Homo sapiens: one gene and its partner. Each later gene encodes a partner of the first gene's protein in a complex. Each region holds a gene or a part of one and is shown in the gene's direction. Other genes may lie near its edges.

Region 1 (12,904 bases):
GATTTTGGGGCTCAGCGGGAGGAAGGGCGGTCTCGTTCTGAATACCTGAACCGGCTCAAGAAGGATCTGGCCATTTACTACTCCTATGGAGACTTCCTGCTTGGCAAGCTCATGGACCTCTTCCCTCTGTCTGAGGTACTGGATTGCCAGAATGCCTCTTTTGCTTTTCTTTTCTCGCCTCCTTACGCTGTGTAAGGAAGATGTTCGGCCCCCTTGCTCCCCTCTTCTGACTGAGCTCCTTAGCCAGCCTCACTTATTCCCTGCTGTCTTGCCCCGCAGCTGGTGGAGTTCTTAGAAGCTAATGAGGTGCCTCGGCCCGTCACCCTCCGGACCAATACCTTGAAAACCCGACGCCGAGACCTTGCACAGGTGAGGGGTGGCCTTTGAGGCTCACTCATCTCAGAAGGGAAGTGACTTCTGCCAACTCCAGAGATTCCTCTGTGCTACCCTGACTGGGTGGGGCCTTAGGACCTAAGCATGATCCTGGGGGGGCAAACCCAGAGGCCTGATGTCTCTGGCAGGATAGGATCTGGGGGCCTAGGACCTCTGTGGAATGGGAAGTTCATACTCTGCTCCCTGTGACTAGGATGATGAGACTTCAGGATGAGCGTGCTGCCCCCAAGGAAATTGGAGGGAGATCATTGAGGAGCTGGGGAAATATGATTCCTGACTGCACAAAAAAGACACATATGCACAGTCAATATTTTAAACTCATTTCCAAGGGTTCAGGGGCCCCAGGTTAAAGACCCCTGTTGTAAAGTCAGTTGTTGGGTTATATGTGTTGTATATTTCCTGGTGTGAAGAAAACCTAATAATGTAATGTGGTATAACCAATGTCATTAAATTTTTAGTATAGTGGAGGGGCTCAGCCTCTTAGAAAATCAGATGCCACTTCTAGGAAATAAAGTAACAGGAGGTGGCATCCTGCTCCATTGGGATGAAGTTCAGATCTTGAGTTAGGAGCCTGAGGTTAAGAAAAAAGGGCACCATAGGATGGAGTGGGAGAGAGAAACTGCTCAATGACTCCATGATGACTGTGTTTGGAGTAAGCACTATAGGAGTTGTGGGGTATGGGCCATGTTTTTATGAAGCATGTGTTTAATGTCTTCATCTGTCTTCTGGGTAGAGTAGCCTATGAGGTTATTAAAATCTTCATCCCTACCGGGCGCGGTGACTCAACGCCTGTAATCCCAGCACTTTGGGAGGCCGAGGCGGGCAGATCACCTGAGGTCAGGAGTTAGAGACCAGCCTGGCCAACATGGTGAAACCCCATCCTATGAAAAATACAAAAATTAGCCAGGCATGGTGGTACATGCCCGTTGTCCCAGCTACTCAGGAGGCTGAGGCACGAGAGAATCGCTTGAATCTGGGAGGTGGAGGTTGCTGTGAGCCGAGATTGCGCCACCTCACTCTAGCCTGGGCAACAGAGTGAGACTCCATCTCAAAAAAAAAAAAAAAAAATCTTCATCCCTTTTCAGGCTCTAATCAATCGTGGGGTTAACCTGGATCCCCTGGGCAAGTGGTCAAAGACTGGACTAGTGGTGTATGATTCTTCTGTGCCCATTGGTAAGTCTCCCCCACCCAAGAGCCCTTCTACCTCTGTCCCTGTCCCTACCGCATGTCACAGGGTGGTCCTTCTCCACAGGTGCTACCCCCGAGTACCTGGCTGGGCACTACATGCTGCAGGGAGCCTCCAGCATGTTGCCCGTCATGGCCTTGGCACCCCAGGAACATGAGCGGATCCTGGACATGTGTTGTGCCCCTGGAGGAAAGACCAGCTACATGGGTATGAGAGGGGCAGGCAGGTGGGATTCATCGGGCTGTCTTGCTTTTGAAAGTAGATGGGGTTGCTGGGGTTGCTGACTCACTAGTGCTCATGGAACACAATGTGCAGGTAGCTAGCAGGGTGGTGAGGACCAGTTTCTGGAGTCGGCCTGGGTTCCAGTGTGCCACTTACTACCCATCTGACTATGGATTCTCTTTTGTCATCCATAAAATGGGATGGTAATTGTGCTTGGGTTGGCCCTTGTATTACGCTTGGATTGTGAGGGTTAAAATGATGCGTTTAGAAGTCCTTGGCAGTGTTCAGCACATAGTCAGCAGCCATAACTTTTATTAAGCTGCTGTCACTTAAAAGAAGTAATTTAGTATGTAGGACCACATAGGTGTTTGGTAAAAATGGGAAAACCACATCGGTAGACTTGCCGATCACCAGGGGCTAGTGCAGAGTGGATCAGCCTATACAGTAGGCAGGCTTGTTGGGAGCGAAGTTGCCTTGAGGTGATGACACTTCTCATGTGGATTCCTGGACAGGAGGGTGGGAGCAAGTGTGGAGACAGTGGAACTGGCTGATCAGCACTGTTACTGCCCTCTCTTTAGCCCAGCTGATGAAGAACACGGGTGTGATCCTTGCCAATGACGCCAATGCTGAGCGGCTCAAGAGTGTTGTGGGCAACTTGCATCGGCTGGGAGTCACCAACACCATTATCAGCCACTATGATGGGCGCCAGTTCCCCAAGGTGAGACTCGAGCTGTGTGTCTTCTGAGGCTTCTTCCGGTTGACCTTCTCCCTTCCTGACCTCAATGTTTAGACTCGACCCTAGTAAATATTGCCCTGCTGGTTGCAGAAGAGACATATGATTCATCTGTATCTTTTCTCCAGGTGGTGGGGGGCTTTGACCGAGTACTGCTGGATGCTCCCTGCAGTGGCACTGGGGTCATCTCCAAGGATCCAGCCGTGAAGACTAACAAGGTGAGGAGTCAGGTGGTGGGCCCCTGAGAGGCCTTGGCTGGGTCTCGTAGAGCTGGAAACTGAGATGGGGACACCCTCTGGGCTCCCCTCTCCTCCTGAGGCTGCCTTTGGGTCTCTTTTTGGGACAGGATGAGAAGGACATCCTGCGCTGTGCTCACCTCCAGAAGGAGTTGCTCCTGAGTGCTATTGACTCTGTCAATGCGACCTCCAAGACAGGAGGCTACCTGGTTTACTGCACCTGTTCTATCACAGTGAGACCTCTGCCATGGCAGAGCAGGGGAGGCTGGGCTGGGGGGCTCTTTGCCCCTTAGAGCTCCCTTCAGCTCCAGCTCTGCTTTTTCCTCCGTTCTTTGTCTTCCCCCCACATCCAGGTAGAAGAGAATGAGTGGGTGGTAGACTATGCTCTGAAAAAGAGGAATGTGCGACTGGTGCCCACGGGCCTAGACTTTGGCCAGGAAGGTTTTACCCGCTTTCGAGAAAGGCGCTTCCACCCCAGTCTGCGTTCTACCCGACGCTTCTACCCTCATACCCACAATATGGATGGGTTCTTCATTGCCAAGTTCAAGAAATTTTCCAATTCTATCCCTCAGTCCCAGACAGGTAAGTAATCTTTTTCTTCCCTTCGTCACCACCTTTGCTCTTTCCACCTTTCAGGAGGCTTTATGGTGTGACAAGAGGAAGGGAAAGGAAAGATTCATGCATCCCTTACTCCAGCCTTTGCATGCTTGGCTGAGAGAACCCTCTCATTCCAGCTAGAATTGCTTTTGAGTGCTGGACCCCATGTGAACAGGCTAAAGTGTTCATATGGATGGAGGCCTGTTCCTTTATTCTGCCAAGTGGCTGCAGTTGTTCAGCACTAAATGCATTCCAAATGCAGGTTGTGGTTTCTTTTCCTTCTTGGCACAGGGTGGACTTACTGGTACTGGACCTCTGCTGGTCCAGCAATCTCAGCACTGGGTTGGAACAGAGCTCCACAGAGCTTTGTCAGCAGTTCTCTGAGCCCTTCACACTCATTGCAGATTGTTTTCTCAGCCATCTTGAGGAGTCTGGCCTGGATCTCAAGGGAAGGGTGGGGTTTTCTGAAACAGCCTTGAGAGCACTGCTTACTGGGATATAACCCTGGGTTTAGTTGGAAGAGGGAGAGAAGTGCTACTTTAGAAATAGTAGAATTTGTCTGGGCGTGGTGGCTCATGCCTGTAATCCCAGCACTCACCTGAGGTCAGGAATTCGACACGGTGAAACCCTGTCTCTACTAAAAATATAAGAATTAGCTGGGTGTGGCCAGGCACGGTGGCTCACGCCTGTAATCCCAGCACTTTGGGAGGCCAAGACGGGTGGATCACGAGGTCAGGAGATCGAGACCATCCTGGCTAACACAGTGAAACCCCCATCTCTACTAAAAATATAAAAAATTAGCTGAGCTTGGTGGTGGGCGCCTGTAGTCCCAGCTACTCGGGAGGCTGAGGCAGGAGAATGGCATGAACCCGGGAGGCGGAGCTTGCAGTGAGCTGAGATTGTGCCACTGCACTCCAGCCTGGGCGACAGAGTGAGACTCCGTCTCCAAAAAAAAAAATTAGCTAGGTGTGGTGGTACGTGCCTGTAGTCCCAACTACTCAGGAGGCTGAGGCAGGAGAATCACTTGAACCTGGGAGGTGGAGGTTGCAGTAAGCCGAGATCACGCTATTGCATTTCAGCCTGGGCAACGAGCAAAACTCCATCTCAAAAAAAAGGAATAGTAAAATTTGCTATAACTTAAAAAGTACATATTTTAATTATCCCGCACTTCATCACAATTCACATGGAAAGAAACTTCTCTGATTTAAAAAATAAATAGGCCAGGTGTGGTGATGGCTCATGCCTATAAATCCCAGTACTTTGGGAGGCTGAGGTGGGAAGATTGCTTAAGACCACGAGTTTGAGACCTGTCTGGGCAACAAAGGGAGACAGTAGTTCCAGCTACTCTGGAGGCTGAGGTAGGAGGATCCCTTGAGCCCCAGGAGTTTGAGGTTGCAGTGAGCTATGATGGCACCACTGTACTCCAGCCTGGGCAACACAGTGAGACTCTACCTCAAAAAAAAAAAAAAAAAGATAAATAAAGCCTAGTGCTTCAAATTCATTTAGAAGACCCTGCGAGGCCGGGCGTGGTGGCTCGCGCCTGTAACCCCAGCACTTTGGGTGGCTGAGGCAGGTGGATCACCTGAGGTCAGGAGTTCAAGACCAGCTGGTCAACATGGTGAAACCTCATCTCTACTAAAAATACAAAAATTAGCCGGACATGGTGGCGCACGGTTGTGATTGTCCGGAGGCTGAGGCAGGAGAATTGCTTGAACCCAGGAGGCAGAGGTTGCAGTGAGCCGAGATCACACCACTGCACTCCAGCCTGGGTGACAGAGTGAGATTCCATCTCAAAAAAAGAAAAAAAAAACCCCAAAACCCTGAGAATCACCTCTTCCTTACAGCATCTTGTTACTTCCTGTCCTCAAGAGGGCGCAGCTTCCTGTAGAAACCTTTTGGCCCAAGGATAGGCAGTGATTTTTTTTTTTTTTTTTTTTTTTTTGAGACGGTGTCTTGCTTTGTCGCTCAGGCTGGACTGCAGTGGTGCAATCTCAGCTCATTGCAACCTCCACCTTCCAGGTTCAAGCGATTCTTGTGCCTCAGACTCCCAAGTAGCTAGGATTACAGGTGTGTACCACCATCCCTGGCTAATTTTTGTATTTTTAGTAGAGATGGTTTCACCATGTGGGCTAGGCTGGTCTTGAACTCCTGGCCTCAAGCAATCCACTTGCCTTGGCCTCCCAAAGTGCTGGAATTACAGGTGTGAGCCACCACGCCTGGCCTATAGGCAGTGATCTTTTAATACAAGGTTCAACTAGGACTTGAGTAAAGGCCAAGTTATATTAAGTAATGGGAATTTAGGTAATCTGCTCTTAGGCACTGACCTAATTGTGTGGAGCTCCTGCCCAGGAAATGGCAATTCTCATATTTTAATATGAGAATATTAAAATATGGTGATAAGGCCCATTTTCTGACACCATCTGTTTAATTTTAACCCCAGGAAATTCTGAAACAGCCACACCTACAAATGTAGACTTGCCTCAGGTCATCCCCAAGTCTGAGAACAGCAGCCAGCCAGCCAAGAAAGCCAAGGGGGCTGCAAAGACAAAGCAGCAGCTGCAGAAACAGCAACATCCCAAGAAGGCCTCCTTCCAGAAGCTGAATGGCATCTCCAAAGGGGCAGACTCAGAATTGTCCACTGTACCTTCTGTCACAAAGACCCAAGCTTCCTCCAGCTTCCAGGATAGCAGTCAGCCAGCTGGAAAAGCCGAAGGGATCAGGGAGCCAAAGGTGACTGGGAAGCTAAAGCAACGATCACCTAAATTACAGTCCTCCAAGAAAGTTGCTTTCCTCAGGCAGAATGCCCCTCCCAAGGGCACAGACACACAAACACCGGCTGTGTTATCCCCATCCAAGACTCAGGCCACCCTGAAACCTAAGGACCATCATCAGCCCCTTGGAAGGGCCAAGGGGGTTGAGAAGCAGCAGTTGCCAGAGCAGCCTTTTGAGAAAGCTGCCTTCCAGAAACAGAATGATACCCCCAAGGGGCCTCAGCCTCCCACTGTGTCTCCCATCCGTTCCAGCCGCCCCCCACCAGCAAAGAGGAAGAAATCTCAGTCCAGGGGCAACAGCCAGCTGCTGCTATCTTAGATGGTTGAAAACTAGACGGGTGGCTCACTGCCATTGTCACCAGGTTGGAACTCTTGCCTCTGTGAGGATGCCTTCTCTACTGTGCATACCCATGAAATTTAATACACATTTTAAAACCTCTGGCCACTGAGTATTTTTGAGGGAACTGGGTGCTGCCTTTGCCGCTTTAAGGGTAAAGATGGGAGGTGGGACTGGGATCTTCTGAGGAGAGGGAATGGTTGGGTGCTACTGAGAAATAAGGTCAGTTTTAGGCTCCTGCATCCTTGGGTTTTCCCAGGAAGGGAAAGCCCTGGAGTCAGAGCTAGGGGTGATTGAACTCCGGGGAGAGGAGGGCAATAGAAGTGTAGGGGAAGGCGGGGCACACTAGCTCATGCCTGTAATCCCAGCACTTTCTGGGAGGCCAAGGCGGGTGGATCACCTGAGGTCAGGTGTTCGAGACCAGCCTGGCTAACATGGCGAAACCTCGTCTCTACTAAAAATACAAAAAATCAGCCGGGTGTGGTGGCGGGTGCCTGTAATCCCAGCTACTCGGGAGACTGAAGCAGGAGAATCGCTTGAACCTGGGAGGCTGAGGTTGCAGTGAGCCAAGATCGCGCCACTGCACTCCAGCCCGGGCGACAGTGAGACTCGGTCTCAAAAAAAAAAAAAGTCGTGTAGGGGAGATGGGCTTGCCACCAGAACCCATGGGGTACTGGAGGTCCTGGGCTTTACGCCACCCCGGCTGGAGTCCAGGCGGTGGCTCCCCTCATCACAGGGCTCGGCCTCAGACCCGGAAAGGTCCAGGGTCCGGCCTCCAATTGGAGCCTGTCATTGGCTTCCCCTCGGCCCGCCCCCTGACCTCTGCCCCGCTGCCGAGCCGCCTGATTGGTCGGCTCTGTCCCGCCGGCGCCGCATTGGCTCTTCTGGCTCGCCTTCCATCCCTGCTCCTGCACCGGTCTGCATCTCCCAGCAGAAGGCGCAGCCATGAATCCGTTATTCGGCCCCAACCTCTTCCTCCTGCAGCAGGAGCAGCAGGGCCTGGCCGGGCCACTGGGGGACTCACTGGGAGGCGACCACTTCGCCGGGGGAGGAGACTTGCCCCCGGCGCCTCTCTCGCCGGCCGGCCCTGCTGCCTACTCGCCGCCCGGGCCGGGCCCGGCCCCGCCTGCCGCCATGGCCCTCCGCAATGACCTGGGCTCCAACATCAACGTGCTCAAGACCCTGAACCTCCGGTTCCGCTGCTTCCTGGCCAAGGTGCATGAGCTGGAGCGCCGGAACCGGCTGTTGGAGAAGCAACTGCAGCAAGCGCTGGAGGAGGGTAAGCAGGGCCGGCGGGGCCTGGGTCGTCGCGACCAGGCAGTGCAGACCGGCTTCGTCAGCCCCATCCGGCCCCTGGGGCTGCAGCTGGGCGCCCGGCCGGCCGCTGTCTGCAGCCCTTCGGCGCGCGTGCTGGGCTCGCCCGCGCGCTCCCCGGCCGGCCCCCTCGCGCCCTCCGCGGCCAGCCTCTCGTCGTCCTCCACCTCCACCTCCACCACCTATTCCTCGTCGGCCCGCTTCATGCCCGGCACCATCTGGTCGTTCTCGCACGCCCGCCGGCTCGGGCCGGGACTGGAGCCCACTCTGGTGCAAGGGCCTGGCTTGTCGTGGGTGCACCCGGATGGGGTGGGCGTCCAGATCGACACCATCACGCCCGAGATCCGCGCTCTCTACAACGTGCTGGCCAAAGTGAAGCGGGAGCGGGACGAGTACAAGCGGAGGTAGGGATTGGGAAAGGGGGACAGGTCTCTCTGTGTCATACCACTCACAACGGGCCGCGAGTTGGTGTGGGTTCCGAAGAATCAGGGGTGAAAAGAATGAGAGTAAAGTTTGTGCTGTGTAATGAGGAGCTTGGAAGCAATTGGATGCAGGGAGACTAGAATCCGCAGAGAATGCAGAAGCCCTGCTCGTGACAGGAAGAAGGACGCTGGGAGCGGAACACGGGGGGATTCCTACTTTTCCGGCTTGTCTCTGCCATCCAGGCTTAACTGCGGGTTTTGTGCGGTGTGAAAGGGACTGGGGCTCTGCCCTACCGGTCTCAGCCCTGGGGCAGGTTAGGGATATAAACTTCAAAAGTAGGAGGCAAGGATATAGCGTAAATTTGGGAGACTAAATTGAGTGAAACTGGAAGGGGCTGGTGAGGGAGGGGCTGTACCTTGCAACGAGTGATTCTTTCACACCCCAAGGTTTCCCAAAGAATATTGATGGAAACCAGGTACCTGCTGTGGTTTCATAGGAAAAGCTCCGGGACCTCAAGCCATTGCTTGAGTAGGTCAACAAACTGGGAAAAGAAAGAGTGAAGGGAATTCACTAGGGTGAGGGTGGAGAGCAGGGCTGACAGGGGAATCTTGGCAGTATAAAGCGCCAGTGGGGAGGGAGAGTGGAGAGCCAGCAGGGGACTGAGCAGGGAGAAGCTGGGATATGGGCCCTCCCTAGGACCGCGAGGCCGCGGGGCGGGCCCGGTGCATTCTGTGGATGAAGATTTGGCTGTCTGAGAGGAGCCCGGCCCCAAGGGGCAAGGGAAAGGGATGTGATGCCAGGAGTGCTGGCTGTATACCAAGTGGATTCCTTAGATGGCTGATAACCAAGCCGATAGGACAGGAGTGAGAGCAGAGGTAGTGTCTTGCAGACTCCAACCCAAGCCTTGAGGAGGGAGCGGGTGACTGACAGGCTTTGGTTTGGCGGCCTCCCCTCTCATCTCAGCTATTATGACCCCTTGTGGGCGGGCCTGGGAACTACCTATGCAGCCCAGTGTGGCGGAGATTCAGCACTGGGTGAGGATTGGCCGAATGTTCTAGGAAATGACCGCTGGGTCTAGGGGCGACCTTCAGGGATCTCCACCCTGCTGGAGTTTACCAGATCACAGATCAGCAGGCTTTCTTTTTTTTTTTTTCCCATAAATGATAATATTTTATTATAGAAAAAGCATCCCAAATACAGGATTTCGTAAACACTGGTAGGTGAACAAGTGCAATTTTAGAAGTAAATGCAAAGTAAAGAGGCAAAACCTACAAGCATTTTGCCTTCAGAAGAAGATGTAGTGTTCTCCTGCACTAGTGATCCCACCCAGAACACAAATGTGGCTCTGTCTCCCGTGAAAGCATCAGATTTGCTTTCTGAGCTCAGTATGCCCATTTCAATAATTGCAAAGTGATGGCAAGAAGTGGCGTTGAACACATGACTACAGACCCTTGACTTAAAATATTGAGACAGGGACTTGCTCTGTCATCCGGGCTGGAGTGCAGTAGCGTCATCACAGCTCACTGCAGCCTCATCCTCCTGGGCTCAAGCAATCATCCTGCCTCAGCCTCTTGAGTAGCTGGGACTACAGGTGTGCACTACCATGTCCATGCCTGGCTATTTTTTTTTTTTCTTTTTGCGTTGTCCAGGCCAGTCTCAAACTCCTGACCTGATCAGCAGGCTTTCTGAGCTTGAGTCCTGTCCTCGTGCTGGCTTCCTTAGTTGTGGTCCATGTTATGTGTCCTTGGGAGTTTCAGTTGTCCTGAAATCATCGTTCTGCCACCCAGAACCAGCCTGCTCTGCCCCTGCAGGAGTTAACTACGCGCTCAGCAGTGGCACAGGCACAGTTCTGGAATACATCCATAACCACAGGAACAACTGCTGTTCTCAGGAGCATTTTTTTTTTAAACTGAAGGAGCGTTTGTCCTTGGTCCAGCTGTCCAGGACAGGAAGGAGTTATTCCTTGGGGACTGATTAGCTCATCGCTCTGCAGCACGCTGCTGTGTAGAGAGCCTTAGCTGGATTCGGATGGTGCGTGATACTGGCAGTGACTCTTCTTCCTCCCTAGATTCCCTGCCCTCATTCTGGTCTCTTTATAGCAACACTGTAACTCCTGTCTTCTGCCTGGAAGGCCTGGGATGGCTTGAGCGCTACACTGGGAGGTAGCTAAAGGCCTCCTGCGTTCTATTTTCAGCTCCCCTGCCTTGTGCGTGACCTTTTTTTGAGCCCCCATTTTCCCAACATAGGAATGGTCCCTGCTTTCTCTCTTCAACCCAGGGATACAGTTTTTTGGAAGAGAGATATTTGGTCCATGCAGAACACATGGATATCGCTCTCAAATTCTGCCCATGTTAAGGGAACCTTATAAGTGAGACCAGATGGAAATGGAGGTGAAAATGAACCTGTCTGTGTGAAGTCTGGCCAAAGAACAAATAGAACTGTAGTGGGCTTCCAGATGATTCATTTGTAGATTTTTTTTACCCTGTAAGATTTCCTTAGGCTTAACCTTTAGCTATAACTGCCTTACTTAAGTTTCTTCCAGGCTCTGTTGAGCTCACTGTCAGATAGCCCCTCCTGCCCTCTTTCACACATCTTGTCCAGGGTTAGCGTGCCCTTGACAGGCTTACTGTCTCCCTCCAGGGACTCGTGGGCTCCCGGCGCATGAGGGCACCACAGTTCATGCCTTCACATCATAGATGAAGAAACCAAGACCCAGAAAAGATAAGGGTCTTAGCTAAGAAAACATAATCTGATGCGACTGGTTCCCTTAGTGGCCTGACTGTATGCATGAGAATGCCAGGGAGGAGGGGAGAAGCACCTACGGGACACACAGGGAAGGGGGCTGGGAGCCAGGAAGGCTGGGAGCTGGGCTGTGTGGGGAGCCAGCAGGGTGGTGGCTGGGCTGGCTGCCTCCTCCTGCTCTGCCCAGCAGGGAGGGGCAGTCGAGGTGATGTGGAGGAGTTATTATTAGGAATACTGCAGTGCGGCTGTGAATGAGGAGATGGGACCCAGAGGCTGACACAGGAAGGAAGATGGAGGGAAGGGGAAGAAAGGGCTTCACCCAAGGCTTCAGAAGCTGCCCACTCAGATTTTAATTTTCTTGCTGTCTTCTTGGCCCCTTCCTAACCACCTTTCTTGTGTTGAAGTTTCTCTCTTGGTGCAGTTCCCCTCCCTTCTCGGGTTGACAGAAGTGATGAGCTCACAGGAACAGGATTTGAGATGTGCTGCTACGCCAGCTAGACTGCAGGGCCCTGGAATGCCGGGCGGGTCCTAAGCAGCACGTTGCCCTGGCTTCCATCTCTGTGATGGAATAGAATATGCACTGCCTGCCATGGCTGATGAGACATGACAAAGCTGGCTCTGGGAAGCATGCCCTACCTAGGACCCTGCCCTGTGGCCCAGGGTGTCGTCCGGCCCACTTGCAGTCTTAATCTCTGAATTCTGGGCCCTGGAACAGGCTGTGTCTAGTTCTCATTTGCCGTACTCACCGGGCCCCTTTACATACTCTACTTTCTCTTTCCCTCTGGGTTTGAGTGCTAGTAACCCCAGGCTCGTGTGTCCACTGCTGTCATGCTGCTGTGGGACTTCCGGCCTCTGAGCCAGTCTGGTCACCTCTCTGTGACTCCCTTAGAGGAGGCTCTGGGTGGGTAGTTTCTGGAGCTAGTGGGGAAGGACTTTGAGTGTCTCCTACCAGGCTCTTGACCCACTCTGTTGATACACTATGTGTCCTGCAGATGCTTTTACAGGGTTAAATGATACCACAAGAGGCAGGGCAGCGGGCTCGACGAGCTCTGTTCTGGTGCGGGCAGGAGGCGGGAGCCCGGATCTGTGCGACTGAAGGTGGGAGACTGGGCCGGGTGGACCTGGTGGTCTGGTGTGGGCAGGAGGTGGGCAATGAGGCCAGCCGGACAGCTGGCTGAGCTGGGGCCTGAGCAGGGATGGGCATCACGGAGGACCGGAGCCTCAGCACTTGCCCAAACAGAGCTCCTGGTGCACAGCCCGGAGGTTCCGGGAAGGCAGCTGGCGAGCTCGACGCCCATCAGGAAGCACAGAGCCGCGTGACAGCTGCAGTTGGTCACCAGCTGGCTGGCCAGGCATTCCTGTGCCCTGCTCCTCCCCATCCAGGGAACCAGAACTGGGGTCTGAGGCCTGAGCCAGAGAGGTGGGGACAGGGAGCCATGGGGGCAGGGAAGGACTCTGTACCTAAGCTCTCTCCGCCCTTCCCATGTCTGTCAGGTGGGAAGAGGAGTACACGGTGCGGATCCAGCTGCAAGACCGTGTAAATGAGCTCCAGGAGGTGAGGGTGGCGCCCCACTTGCTGCTGGTGCTTCCCTGGGTACCCCTGTCTGCCCATGACCCTGCTGCCGTCTCCCTGTCCCTCCTTGGCATCTTTATCTTCCTCCCACCTCGGCAGTGCCACCAACATCAGGGTTTCTCCCAACTGCAGGAAGCCCAGGAGGCTGATGCCTGCCAGGAGGAGCTGGCACTGAAGGTGGAACAGTTGAAGGCTGAGCTGGTGGTCTTCAAGGGGCTCATGAGTAACGTGAGTGCAGCCCCAGGCTTCCCGAGGGTCGAAGTGAGGCTTCTGAGGCCAGAAGAGTAGGCCCTTCTAGTGTTGGCCTGTTGGCCTCCCGTCCACGGCTCCTCCCCTTCTCTTTGCTTTCCTTCCCTTTTTCCCCTAGCCACCCCTAA
Region 2 (12,092 bases), on another chromosome or scaffold:
AACCGGAAGGATATAAACTTGAGTCAGTTACTTTATTTGATCATTTTGAAGTAAATCACATTTGGTTAGGTGTTTTGAAATAATAAAAATAATTCACAGACTTTATTTGGCCACCACTACAGGAGATGCAATAATTAATCAATGAATAGATGCAAGGTCAATACAAAGCTAAGGAAGGGGTCTAGACATGAAATTACTTACAATGTTGACAAACCTCTAAAAAATGTTCTATTTTCAAGTCTATTTGAAAAATTAGTTTTTAGATTTTTAAAATCATTTTATTTATTAAGATGAAATTTCTCATTTTCAGAGTCATTTCTGAACACTAAAATTATATTCATTAACTCTGATTATAAGTAAGAATTCAATATAGGAGATTTTTAAAAAAGACGAATAAAATACTTCTAAGTCTAAGAGCTCAAGGTATTTATTAACAAAACTTTCAAATAAGAAATCTTAAAAAGAAACCACTGAAAACATTAGGAATAGAAGAAGGAAAAAAGGAATTATCCAAGCAATATAAAAATGCAAAAAGAAAGAAACAATGAGAAAAGCAGAAGAAATATACACATCAATATGCTAAACAAGCTGTGGCTAGAGTGCTTAATGACTGGTTATTAAGCATACTTAATCTGCAGAAAGGGGTGACTAAATCTACAGTACTTTTATTAGTCTTGGATCACTTGGGCACTAAACAAATTGTTTAGCAAATTTGTTGATTAAGGGGCTTATTTATACATAACACTGTGTTGAAGCTTCAAATGTTGACTGCCTCCTATATGGGGAATAAATTTTTACTGACATACTAATTCCTCCAGCTTTAAAACAAAAATTAATATAAAAGACAACATTTAAAAACTCCAAATAGTAACAATTTTACTTGTATTAATACTTACTTCTTTTACATGAAACTAGTTTATCCCTTTTTGGGGGTGGAAGGGAACACAGAAATGACACTCCTGACCTAATTGTGATCAAAATTATTCAGCATTAGAAAAGTGGGTCAGCATTTATCATTCAGAAAATCTAGGTCAGGTCAGCATTTTCCAACTAGTCTCTTAAAATGCAAAACATGAAAATGCAAGAATGTTAGCCTGCATATGAATGCACAAACACACATATATATAATTTGCCCAAAAAAAGTGACCAGAATTGGTTGAAAAGATTTCCACTAATACATAAAAATTATCAACATTTTCTTTTGGCATTATTAGCGTATAAATTTAAACTTTGTTGCTTATCACGTGGTAGGGTGATGATATTGCACCAAATAGGCAAGTAACCTCAGTTTAATTTGAGAGCAAGAAATCAGGCTTGATTAATATTTAGATATGAACCCATCACCCATCTCTTCTCAGCAACAGTGGCCACAAAATATTTGGGTTAATGAAGTAATCCAAGTATAAAAATTTGACCTTAGGTGAATCAACATCTCACATCTCCACTTGTCAGTTTCATTTCATTTGTAAAATGTGGGGGCTGGATTAAACAACCATTTGTTCTCACCAGTCATATTTTAAAAATGTACAGAGACATTTTCTACTTAATACTTTCCATTTAACAACTTTCATGGATATGATGAGTAAAACTACAGTACAGAGTAGAAGCGCTTGAACTCTGTTTTCCACTGGCAACACTGATTTTGTAGTTATTTTCATCTCATTATCATGGTACCTACAATTAATTTGCTGTTTGTGCTGCTTTGTTTTGGAGCTATTTTATATAAACCTCAGATCTAAAGATAAGGCAAAAGGGTGTCAAGAGTTAGAGAAGGCATACGCAAAACAATGATAAATGGTAGAGTGAAAAAAAATTAGAATAAATGCTCCATATATGTCTTTGATAAAAAGGTTGGACAAGAGACAGTATTCTGAAGGAAAAGAGCAAAGCCTGCTGTAAAGTCCTCTGACCTTGCAATCAAGAAAAAAACAAAAACTGATAAAATGTCCTATCATATGGTATGAAATCTAACTGCTTATTAGAACCACTTGGAGCTTAAAAAGCCATCATTGCCCAGAAATTTGGATTTAACTGGTCTGGGCACCTACAGTTTCTTAAAATTCCCTGAAAGCTTTTTTTTGAGATGGAGTCTCACTCTGTTGCCCAGACTGGAGTGCAGTGGCATGATCTCGGCTCATTGCAACCTCCACCCCTTGGGTTCAAGCAATTATCCTGCCTCAGCCTCCCGAGCAGCTGGGACTACAGGTGCACGCCACCAAGCCCGGCTAGTTTTTTTTGTATTTTTAGTAGAAATGGGGTTTCACCATGTTGGTCAGGCTAGTCTCGAATGCCTGCCTCAGCCTCCTGGAAGTTTTTCTTTGCAATCAGTATTCAAAAGCTTTGCTAGAGAAGATCAGCACCCACATCAGATTCCTATTAGCCTAATGAAGTGGTTATCAAAGGTGTGGTTCATGGAACCCTTTCATGGGTTCATAAGATCAGAACTATTTTTATAATACTAAGATACTTGCCTTTTAACTGTGATGCCATTTTCATGGATGATGCAAAAGCAATATTAGCAACAGAATTATCTGAACTGCTACCTCCTCACCCACTCCTGACATAAAAAATTTGCTTTTCTTAATATTTTTGTGCAATTAATGGTATTGTTGCATAGTTGAAAGGGCACAGCATTTCGTGACAAATTGGTTCCGTTTAAATCTTAGCTCTGCTATTTATAAGCAGTGTGATGTTGGGCAAGACACTTGGCTCTCCGCATCTGTTTCTTCATATGAAAAATGTGGCCAATAATACGACTTTAATAAAACCTTGTATGTAAAATAAAACACCTGTCAGAGTAGGTGCTTAACGAAAACAGTAAGCCCTCACTTAACGTCATCCACAGGTCCTTGGAAAATGCAACTTTAAGCCAAAAGATATATAACAAAAAAAATTTACCATAGGCGAATTGATATAAACAAGAGTTAAGTTCCGATGGCATATTTCTAGTCACAAAAGCATCACCAAACTTCCAAATCAATATCAAAACCCTTCTAATATTCAACACTGAAGTAAATGTGAGTTATACATCCACTTAAGAAAGATTAATAAAAACAAGTAAGATAGCTGGCTATTTGCTATTTCAGTTCAGTGTTGACGGTGCCGGGAGCCATCCCAGTAGCCTGGAGTATAGGACATCATTCCAGTGCAGAGCACTCAAACTGGGAGAGTGTAGACACCTCAACAAACCCATTGTATATATCTCTGGGATGTAGAAGGGAACTGGAGTACCAAGAGAAAATCCATGCAGACATGGGAAGAACAGACATGAAGACAACGTGCAATTGGGAATGGAGTTTCTTCCTCATACACGTTATTGAGGATCTGCTGTATTTCTTTCCCATCCAATAAATCATCCAAGCTGGAGCTGTGCTTCATCACCCTTCATTAAGTATCTTCAAAACGATTTTCCTAGTTTTCCTTTCCTTTCAACCCAACTGCTCATCAGAGTTGAGACATTCAATCATTGTATACCTGAACTACAGCACTTGTTTTCAAGCTGGTCTCCCAGATTCTAATCTTCCTCCATTTAAATATACTCTATGTTGTTACCAGTTGGTTTTCTAAAATGCACACCTTTTATTTCCCTGCTCCAAAGCCTTTATCAAGTAAGCAATTAAACATCATCAAAATATAAAGTCTTTGGCATGGCACAAAGCTCTTCAAAATCTGGCCCCAATCTTTCTAGCCTCATCTATCACCAGTCCACTATACTTGACTTCTTTTTATTCCTGCCACATTAAGGCTCCATGCAACTATTGAACTTCATGCCTTTTGTTCCCATAACTGCCATTTCCTTTATCTACGGGATAGAGATTGCTGTCCCACCTCTAGCTAATGACTCCTTCCCTAATACTCTTTAAAGTACAGGTGAGAGAGAATTACTTCTTTCTTGGGGACATCTCTCAAGCAGTTCCCAGCCAGTACTACTCCTTCCACTGTGTTTAATGATTTTCTACATATCTTCTGCTATAAGAGGAGAGAAAATACTTCACATCTATTCTCTGGAGACTCAGTTTAATTATGAAATGTGGGCAATCATTCCTGCTTTGCAGAGTTTGTGAAAATCATTTAGTGCACCAAGAAAAAGACATGAAAATAAACTCCCTTAGAGTTAACCAAGTAAAGGTTCGGAACTGGAAATGATTCTAACTCTGTTTGGCTCAGTCTAAACCCATGCTCTCTCTACTACATGTGTTGTCTTGCTACAACATAGCAGACAACAGATGGAATTTACTTATTTAATAATTTCCCCCACTGGACTGTGAAATCCTTGAAGACACTGAGCATGTTTGTATCCCCAGACTCTTTTTTTTTTTTTGAGATGGAGTTTCGCTCTTGTTGTCCAGGCTGGAGTGCAATGGCACAATCTCGACACACCGCAACCTCCACCTCCTGGGTTCAAGTGATTCTCCTGCCTCAGCCTCCCAAGTAGCTGGGATTACAGGCATGTGCCACCACGCCCGGCTAATTTTTTATTTTTAGTAGAGATGGGGTTTCTCCACACTGGTCAGGCTGGTCTCCAACTCCCGACCTCAGTTGATCTACCCACCTTGGCCTCCCAAAGTGCTGAGATTACAGGCCCAGACTCTTAATGGAGTAATAACTCCAGCTGGCACTGTGACTGTAGAGATTAAAATACCTAGTCTTTAAGAATTCTGCCTAGAGAGGGAGAAATGCAGGCAACACCTTATTGCTGTTTTCTGTGAAAAGGGTTATGCTAGAGGGATACTGGAAGTATACATATGAACTAGGAATATCCCTATAGATACCTAAAGAGAGTAGAAGAAAATAGAAGGGGTTAAGGGAGGCTTTTTGGAAAGAGATGAGACATGAGAGAAATGTTGAAGGATGTTAGGTGTTGGGGGGAACAAGGCATTCTGAAATTCTTTAAAAGTATTAATTCACAAGTGCTACAATTACTGTTCATGCTGACAGTTGTAAATTATTACTGCTGATAAACATTTTATCCTTGAAATGCTTTTTAAAAAGATTCTTGGCTGGGGACGGTGGCTCACGCCTGTAATCCCAGCACTTTGGGAGGCTGAGGTGGGAGGATCACGAGGTCAAGAGATCGAGACCATCTTGGCCAACATGGTGAAACCTCGTCTCTACTAAAAATACAAAAATTAGCCAGGCGTGGTTGTGCACGCCTGTAGTCCCAGCTACTCGGGAGGCTGAGGCAGGAGAATTGCTTGAACCCAGGAAGCAGAGGTTGCAGTGAGCTGAGATTATGCCACTGCACTCCAGCCTGGGCAACAGAGGGAGACTCCATCTCAAAAAAAAAAAAAATCATTAAAATACAGTAATTCAGGTTTATTAAGTCATTACCATTGGGTTACCTCACAAATAAACTAAGTTTAGATGCGAACTCAAAGATACTGAGACACTAATCCATTTCTTAAGCTGCTAAGTTAGCCTTCTTGAAACCTCACTTCGTAGCTCTGCAAACAATGTACTTTTGACATCCCAAGCTCACAGGAATAAAAAACCACCTGCCAGTTGTTTCCGTTTTCCACCTATGTCTAATTTATGTACTTATATTTATAAGAAACAAATCACTAAGTCTTATTTCATCCTTAGTTATGTTGTGTTTCTATCGATAACAGCATGAAGATTTCGGGGACCTGGACATTAAAATAAGTTTGAGTACTGGCTTTACAATCTACTAGGTGTGATCCGAGGCAAGTCAGTCTCTTCATGTTTCACTTCTTTCACTTGTAAACATCTATTCAGAAGTTGCTGTGAACTTGATATTTCCATGCTTATAAACTGATTTTTTGAAAAGAGCCTGGTACATAGGACGTGATAATAAATGAAAGCATTTGCTACTTTTGGAAAAACAAGCATGACAAGATAGTTTATATACTGTTGATCTTAAGCACAGTATATGCATCTTATTTTTAGCTAGTCTGACAGTGAGATAATAAAAAGAGTTATCTTTGACTTGCACTACGAGTAGAAGAATTCAACTTCAGTTTCTAGAAAGATGTATAAGAATTAAGAGTGGCAGTCTTCCTAGTCTCAACTGCCATCTTCCCACCAGGTGGTAAATTCGTCCAGAGAAGAAAATGAATTATTGCTATATGGGATTCTGCAGCAACTTCTGTGAACATAGGCTCATAATTTTTCACCATGGAGACTCAAGCTTTTTGGAGTCATAGTTGTTTTTGGGTCTATTTGCAGGCATGCATCCTTTGTCCAGAAATATACATAACATTTGGCACATGGACCTGGAGGTAAAAGAGGAGGAAGGCCTGAGGCTAGACACCACTCCAATAAGTACATTAAGCTCCTAGAAGGGCAATCCACCTTTGCAGAGAACTCTTAACTATTAAAACCTATAGCTTGTAAAGCAGCATTTTCAAAGTTAAGAGAAGAAGGTGGAAGGGTCTTGAGAGGCTACTGACTAAACAGATGAAAATGAAGGTATGGAGTTTGGTGCCAAAAGAAACTCCCCCCAAAAATCAAACAATAACACCAGAGTAAAGCCCCTAGGGCGAGATAAGGAGTTGCAACAAAACAAGCGGAAACTCGAGAAGCGCTAATGCTTCAAAGGGTCAATGACCACACATAATCTACGTAGCCAACGTGTTAAAACACACCAACGCATTTTTTTTTCCTAAACAAAGTAGGAAAGCGGACTTTGCATGAGGGGCGGGCTGCCGACCCAGCAGTCTTCCTCGGACAGTCCGTCCTGATTCTCTCTGGTTGGCCGTGGAGGGACCACATGGCTCCAAGGCCTCTCAGCTCCGGGCCCACACACCCCGGGCTGCCGCACAAACTCCAGCCCTAGTCTAGATCCACAACCCCTTCTCGAAGATCAACCGCGACCTGGGAGCCCCACTTCTTACCATAGCGAGGCCGGCGATGCCGCAGCCACATCACCCTTCCGGGGCTCAGGCGGAAGAGGCTGCATGTCCCGTCTGCCCTTCTCGCCCTCTCCAGCCGTCCGGTTGGGCTTGTCACGGCACCGCCTACCAAGACGGGCGGTTAAGACACTAGGATAGGCTCCTCTCCACCGGAAAAGGCGGGATTTAGATCACGTCCCGCAGGCCGGCGGAAGTAGCTGATACTCTCATTGGTTGCAAAACCTTGATCTGTGAAAGCGGGCGTTTTGGAAGATACCGGAAGTAGAGTCACGGAGAGGTAGGATCCGGAAGTGGGGCTGCCTCTTTAAATAACAAAAATCTGAGGTTCTGTTCTTTTTATCTTTTTGCTTTCTTTTTAAAAAAGTTCCCTGCTACTTACCCCTAGAACTCCACAATGCGAGAATCCCCCTCAATTTGTGAGCTCCCGCGACTTCCTCTTGTGGGCTTTTGGGGATGCTAGGGTTCTCGGCATTATCCTCAGGGTGCGACCTGTTCACCCCCTTTTCAGTTTCTCCGTTTGCATCTGAGGGATTCTTGGGAATGCGAAGCACTTTTGAAATGCTCTGTGTTGGTTGTGGGATTGGGAGGACGGTTGAATCCAGAGGGTAGTGTTGAGTAGGCTGTTTGAGCATTTCCCCAGCACTGGCCTGTCCTTTCAATCCCCAGATATTGGTAAACTGTGGGTTCCAACCAGGCATCGAGGCTGAAACGTACTAGGCAATTTGAGGTCAGGAAAGAACTTTCTGTGGTAACCAATGGGAAGGAACTGCCGTTTGCGGACTGCAGCGATTGATTAGGTACTTTAAAGAGATCAACTGGCAAGACAAATGACAAGGCAACTTTTAATCAGTAGTAGTATTTAGCTTTTTCTGATTTTAATTATCCCATTAGGTGAGGTTCTACTACACACACACGTTTTTCTTTCTGCATTTTATCGATGGAGAAACAGGCGCTTTGACATGTTTGAATTTGCGTAGTTCTTGGAATTCTAATAAAGTATTAGAAATGAGAGTTTTTCACTCTTTGCCCCCTTATGGCAAGCTTTTGGTTCTAAATGTGTGGTGTATTTTTTCTCAGGCAGGAGAGAGTTCTTTTCAGAATGTTTTCAATTTTTTATGGACTTAGAAGGTGGATAGAGAGAAAGAGAGAAGGTAACTCACGTGAGATTTTGGTTTATGAACTGTATTCGGCCTATGAGACCCTTTTGTATTTAGGGCAACACAATGATTAGAAGATTTGGGATTCTGCTATTTGTGTTTACATTGTTCACTAGGGCACACAAAGGTTTTGTTTTAAACTATAACTAACTTGATATTTGAGTCTGTTATATTGAATTGTCAAGAGTTGGTCAAATACACAAATTAGCAAGTATTTACTGGGTGCCTGCTTTATTCATGGATCTTCAGATTGCAGCATAGGAACAAAGATGGTCTGTTCCTTTAAGGAATTTAATAAGGTTGGGGGAGAGGGGAATAAGAAAGGTATTTAAAAGATACAGTACTCTCCACCTAAGGATAAAAAAAGTCTTTTAATGTTCTGTCTTGTAATTCCTTTATATTATACCTTTTAGGTCTTGCCATTCAAATTAAACAAACCTGGTTTAGTTATGGAAATTATGTTGTGCAATTTATCGAGCTTGGCTTTTAGGGCAGTAAATGTGTCTGTAGACATAACTGCCCTTGGTTTCATGTGAAGATTGTCTTGATCTTTGTTACATATAAAGGTAATACTTCTGTATGAAGCTCTGCTTCAGGCTACCTGTGAAAAGCATCAGAAAGCTTAACTTGTTAGAGATCACAATTGATTTGCTATATCTATATATTTTAATTAATTTTAGGCTATGACTTCTTATGTACCTGAGCTTCAAAACAGTAAAGAACGGCATTGCCAGTTTTTAAGTTATCTATAGAGAAACACATATGCCAATAAATGAGGCTGAACAAATATGTATAATGTTTATTGCATTTATGTAAAACATCAAAGTTAATCTGACGTGGTGAGTTTTTTTTGGGAGGTGGTAGTTTAGCTCCATTGTCTTACATAAACCCCCTACTTTTTGGTTTTCAGATTATATCACAATTTCTAAAATCTTTCTGGCAGCTTTGCAGTGAATCCTCATTTAAAACCATCTTGGATCCTTTCCTTACTAGAAATAAAATCTGTCTGTGTTATTCCTTTGTTCAAAAATTATTATTTATTTTTATTTTTGAGACAGGATCTTGCTCTGTTGCCCAGGGTGGAGTGCAGTGGCACAATCATGACTCACTGCAGCCTCAACCTCCAGGGCAGAAGCGATCTATCCTCCTCCCTCAGTATCCCCAGTAACCGGGACCATGGTTGCATGCCACCATACTTGGCTAATTTTATTTTATTTTTTGTAGAGACAGGGCTCACTATGTTGCCTAGGCTGGTCTCAAACTCCTGGGCTCAAGTGATCCTCCCGCCTCGGCCTCCCAAAGTGCTGGGATTACAGGTGTAGGCCACCGCACCACGTCTGGCCTGTTCAAAAAGTATTATCTCACCTGCATCTGGAAGAATATTTCCAACTTTGGTTTCATGGGTATATTAAAATCGTATGTAAAAATAGTGGATATTTGTAGTTTTCTGTGGCGCCAGTGCACAGGTGTCCTCAGTGTTATGAGGATTACATGAGTTATTACAAGTAAATCATCTAGGCAAATGTTTGGCATACAGTAAGCACTCAGAAAGTGTTGGCTATTACTGTGCATGGCTTTGTCTTTGCTAAATTAAAAGTCCCTGGAGAGGAGGAATTATAATGGAGGAATGGTTGAATTGCATATATTAGGCACTAAATACAGTAGTCCCTCCTTATCTGAGGTTTTGATTTCTGCAGTTTCAGTTACCCATGATCAACCACAGTCTGAAAATATTAAGTAGAAAATTCCAGCCGGGTGCGGTGGCTCATGCCTGTAATTCCAGCACTTTGGGAGACCAAGGCGGGCAGATCACTTGAGGTCAGGAGTTTGAGACCAGCCTGGCCAACATGGTGAAACCCCATCTCTACTAATATACAAAAATTAGCCAGGCGTGGTGGCATGTGCCTGTAGTCCCAGCTAGTCAGGAGGCTGAGGCAGGAGAATCAATTGAACCCGGGAGGTGGAGGCTGCAGTGAGCCGAGATTGTGCCACTGTACTCCTGCGTGGGCAACAGAGCGAGACTCCATCTCAAAAAAAAAAAAAAAAATTCCAGAAATAATGCATACATTTTAAATAGCATGCCTTTCTGAGTTGTGATGAAATCTTATTCCATCCTATCCCATTCAGCCCGGGGCCATGAATCATCTCCTTGTTTAGCGTATCCCTGCTGTATAAGCTTCCTGCCTTTTAGTTGCTTGGTTATCAGATTGATGGAGGTGGTATCACAGTGCGTGTGTTCTAGGAATACTTATTTTACTTAATTATTGCTTCAAAGCACAAGAGTAACGACGCTGGCAATTTGGTTATGCCAAAGAGTAGCTGTAAAGTGCCTCTTTTAAGCAAAAAAAGGAAAGTTCTCCACTTAATAAGGAAGAAAAGAAATCCTATGTTGATGTTGTTAAGAACTATGGTAAGAACAAATCTATCTGTAAAATTGTGAATAAGCAAAAAGAAATTTATGCTAGTTTTACTGTCACACCTCAAACTGCCAAACTTATAGCCATAGTGCATTATAAAAGCTTAGTTAAGATAAAAAAGGAATTAAATTTGTGGTTAGAAAATGTGAACAGAAGCATGCTCAGATTGAAGGCAGTTGGATTCAGCCTCCTCACGGGGCCTTGGGATATACACCCTTGGATAAGGAGAGGACTGCTATAAAAGGTTTTAGTATTAAGTTGGTATTGCATTTGTATCACCAGACCACTTTCTCCCCATTTTCTCTTTTTACTTTGTTGCTAGTGTTAATGATAGGGTTGATTTACATTACCTTTTACATTACCTACCTTTTTTCATTCACTGTTATTCACATATATTGAAAGACAATTGTTCTGCTTTTTTCCTCTTATCCTCAGCTAGCCTCCCTAACCTCAGGTAGAGGTTTTTCATGTTCCAGTGTTTGTCCTTTTTTTCTCCCCCCTTGTTTTTATTCCCTTCCCACATGGCTTTTCAATTCAGACTGAAATGTACTTGAGGACCAAAGTTAATACAGTTTTATTCTGTTAGGGATTTTTGTTAAATAAGTAGAGTTTCAGCTGCCCTTGTCACACACAAAAAATAAGATAGATGATAGGTGTTAATCTCCTTGACTAAAATAACCATTTTACTATCTGTGTGTATCCTATAATGTCAACTTGTAAACCTCAAATATACACATTAACATTTTTTAAAAAAAGAAGTTTCACCAAAAAAGACACTTCTATTTAATGTATGTCTTATTTCTTTTACCTTAAGAAATGTTTCTCTTAACCTTTCTCCATTTTCAACCCCATTTGTTTGCTCTTCTCTGCAACAAAAATCCTCTAAAGAGTTTTCTATGCTCCATGTTCCAATTCCTCTTTTTCTACCTCTGCATCTTCATTGGTATATTTAAAAGATATCTTGAACTCAGATGTCCCAGACCGAACTCCTTTCCTCCCAAACCTTTCCCATTCTTTCTCATCTGAATTGATGGCAACTTTATACAGCCAGTTGCTCAGTTAAATCTTTGGAGTCATCCTTGACTCCTTCCTTTCTCTTGTATTCCAACAAATCTGTTGGCTTTTTCTATGAAATATATCTAGAATTCAACAGTTTTCTACTATTTCTGCTATTAGTATACTGATCATCTCTTGCTCAGATTTTTGTTATTACCCACTATCATTTCTTGCCTGGATTATAGTAATTGTGTTCTGTTCTCTCTGCTTTTTTCAGTCCTTGCCTCCCTACAGTCTATTCTCATATGTCAGCCAGAGTGATACTTTTAAAATATAAATAAAAAATTGTGTATTTACATGTAAGATTCTAAATGCAATATGTTATGCTAGATTGGATCCTGAAACAGAAAGAGGTTATTAATGGAAAAACTGGTGAAATCCAAATAAAGTCTATGGTTTAGTTGATAGAAATGTATCAGTGTTGGTTTCCTGGTTTTGATAAATGCACCGTGGTAGTATAAGATGTTAATATTAGAAGAAATTGGGTGAGGGGTATATGAGAACTTTCTATTATCTTTGTAACCCTTCTGTAAATTCAGAATTATTTCAAAATAATATACAGAAGAATAAAACATTACTTTTTTGCTTAA

The links.
Region 2: the proteins of IFFO1 (region 1) and XRCC4 are in contact, whole or in part, in a crystal structure (PDB 6ABO), measured with the Homo sapiens proteins. Residues at the interface, in NP_001317253.1 of Homo sapiens: Arg469, Glu470, Tyr473, Ile477, Gln479, Ile480, Glu481, Glu483, Leu484, Ala487, Lys488, Asp490, Met491, Arg493, His494, Leu495, Tyr498, Met501, Lys505, Leu508, Asp509, Met512, Cys515, Arg516, Leu518, Ile519, Thr520, Gln521; in NP_001304941.1 of Homo sapiens: Trp155, Val158, Gln159, Phe162, Glu163, Cys165, Val166, Lys169, Glu170, Glu173, Leu176, Tyr177, Phe180, Val183, Leu184, Lys187, Lys188, Lys190, Ile191, Leu194, His195, Lys197, Leu198, Ala201, Ala202, Arg205, Glu212.

The regions. Positions count from the first base shown.
Region 1 is NC_000012.12:6,550,546-6,563,449, reverse strand, and holds the start of IFFO1 (non-homologous end joining factor IFFO1), read left to right. Parts: upstream 1-7,407; 5' UTR 7,408-7,420; coding exon 7,421-8,193; intron 8,194-11,946; exon of another isoform or gene 11,947-12,052; intron 12,053-12,448; coding exon 12,449-12,509; intron 12,510-12,659; coding exon 12,660-12,755; intron 12,756-12,904. Other genes in the region: NOP2 (28S rRNA (cytosine(4447)-C(5))-methyltransferase), read left to right, coding at 1-135, 280-369, 1,479-1,566, 1,646-1,786, 2,380-2,519, 2,663-2,752, 2,881-3,003, 3,124-3,352 and 1 more. UniProt on the Homo sapiens protein: Nuclear matrix protein involved in the immobilization of broken DNA ends and the suppression of chromosome translocation during DNA double-strand breaks (DSBs).
Region 2 is NC_000005.10:83,070,467-83,082,558, forward strand, and holds the start of XRCC4 (DNA repair protein XRCC4), read left to right. Parts: upstream 1-7,080; 5' UTR 7,081-7,149; exon of another isoform or gene 7,150-7,196; intron 7,197-12,092. Other genes in the region: TMEM167A (protein kish-A precursor), read right to left, coding at 6,855-6,857.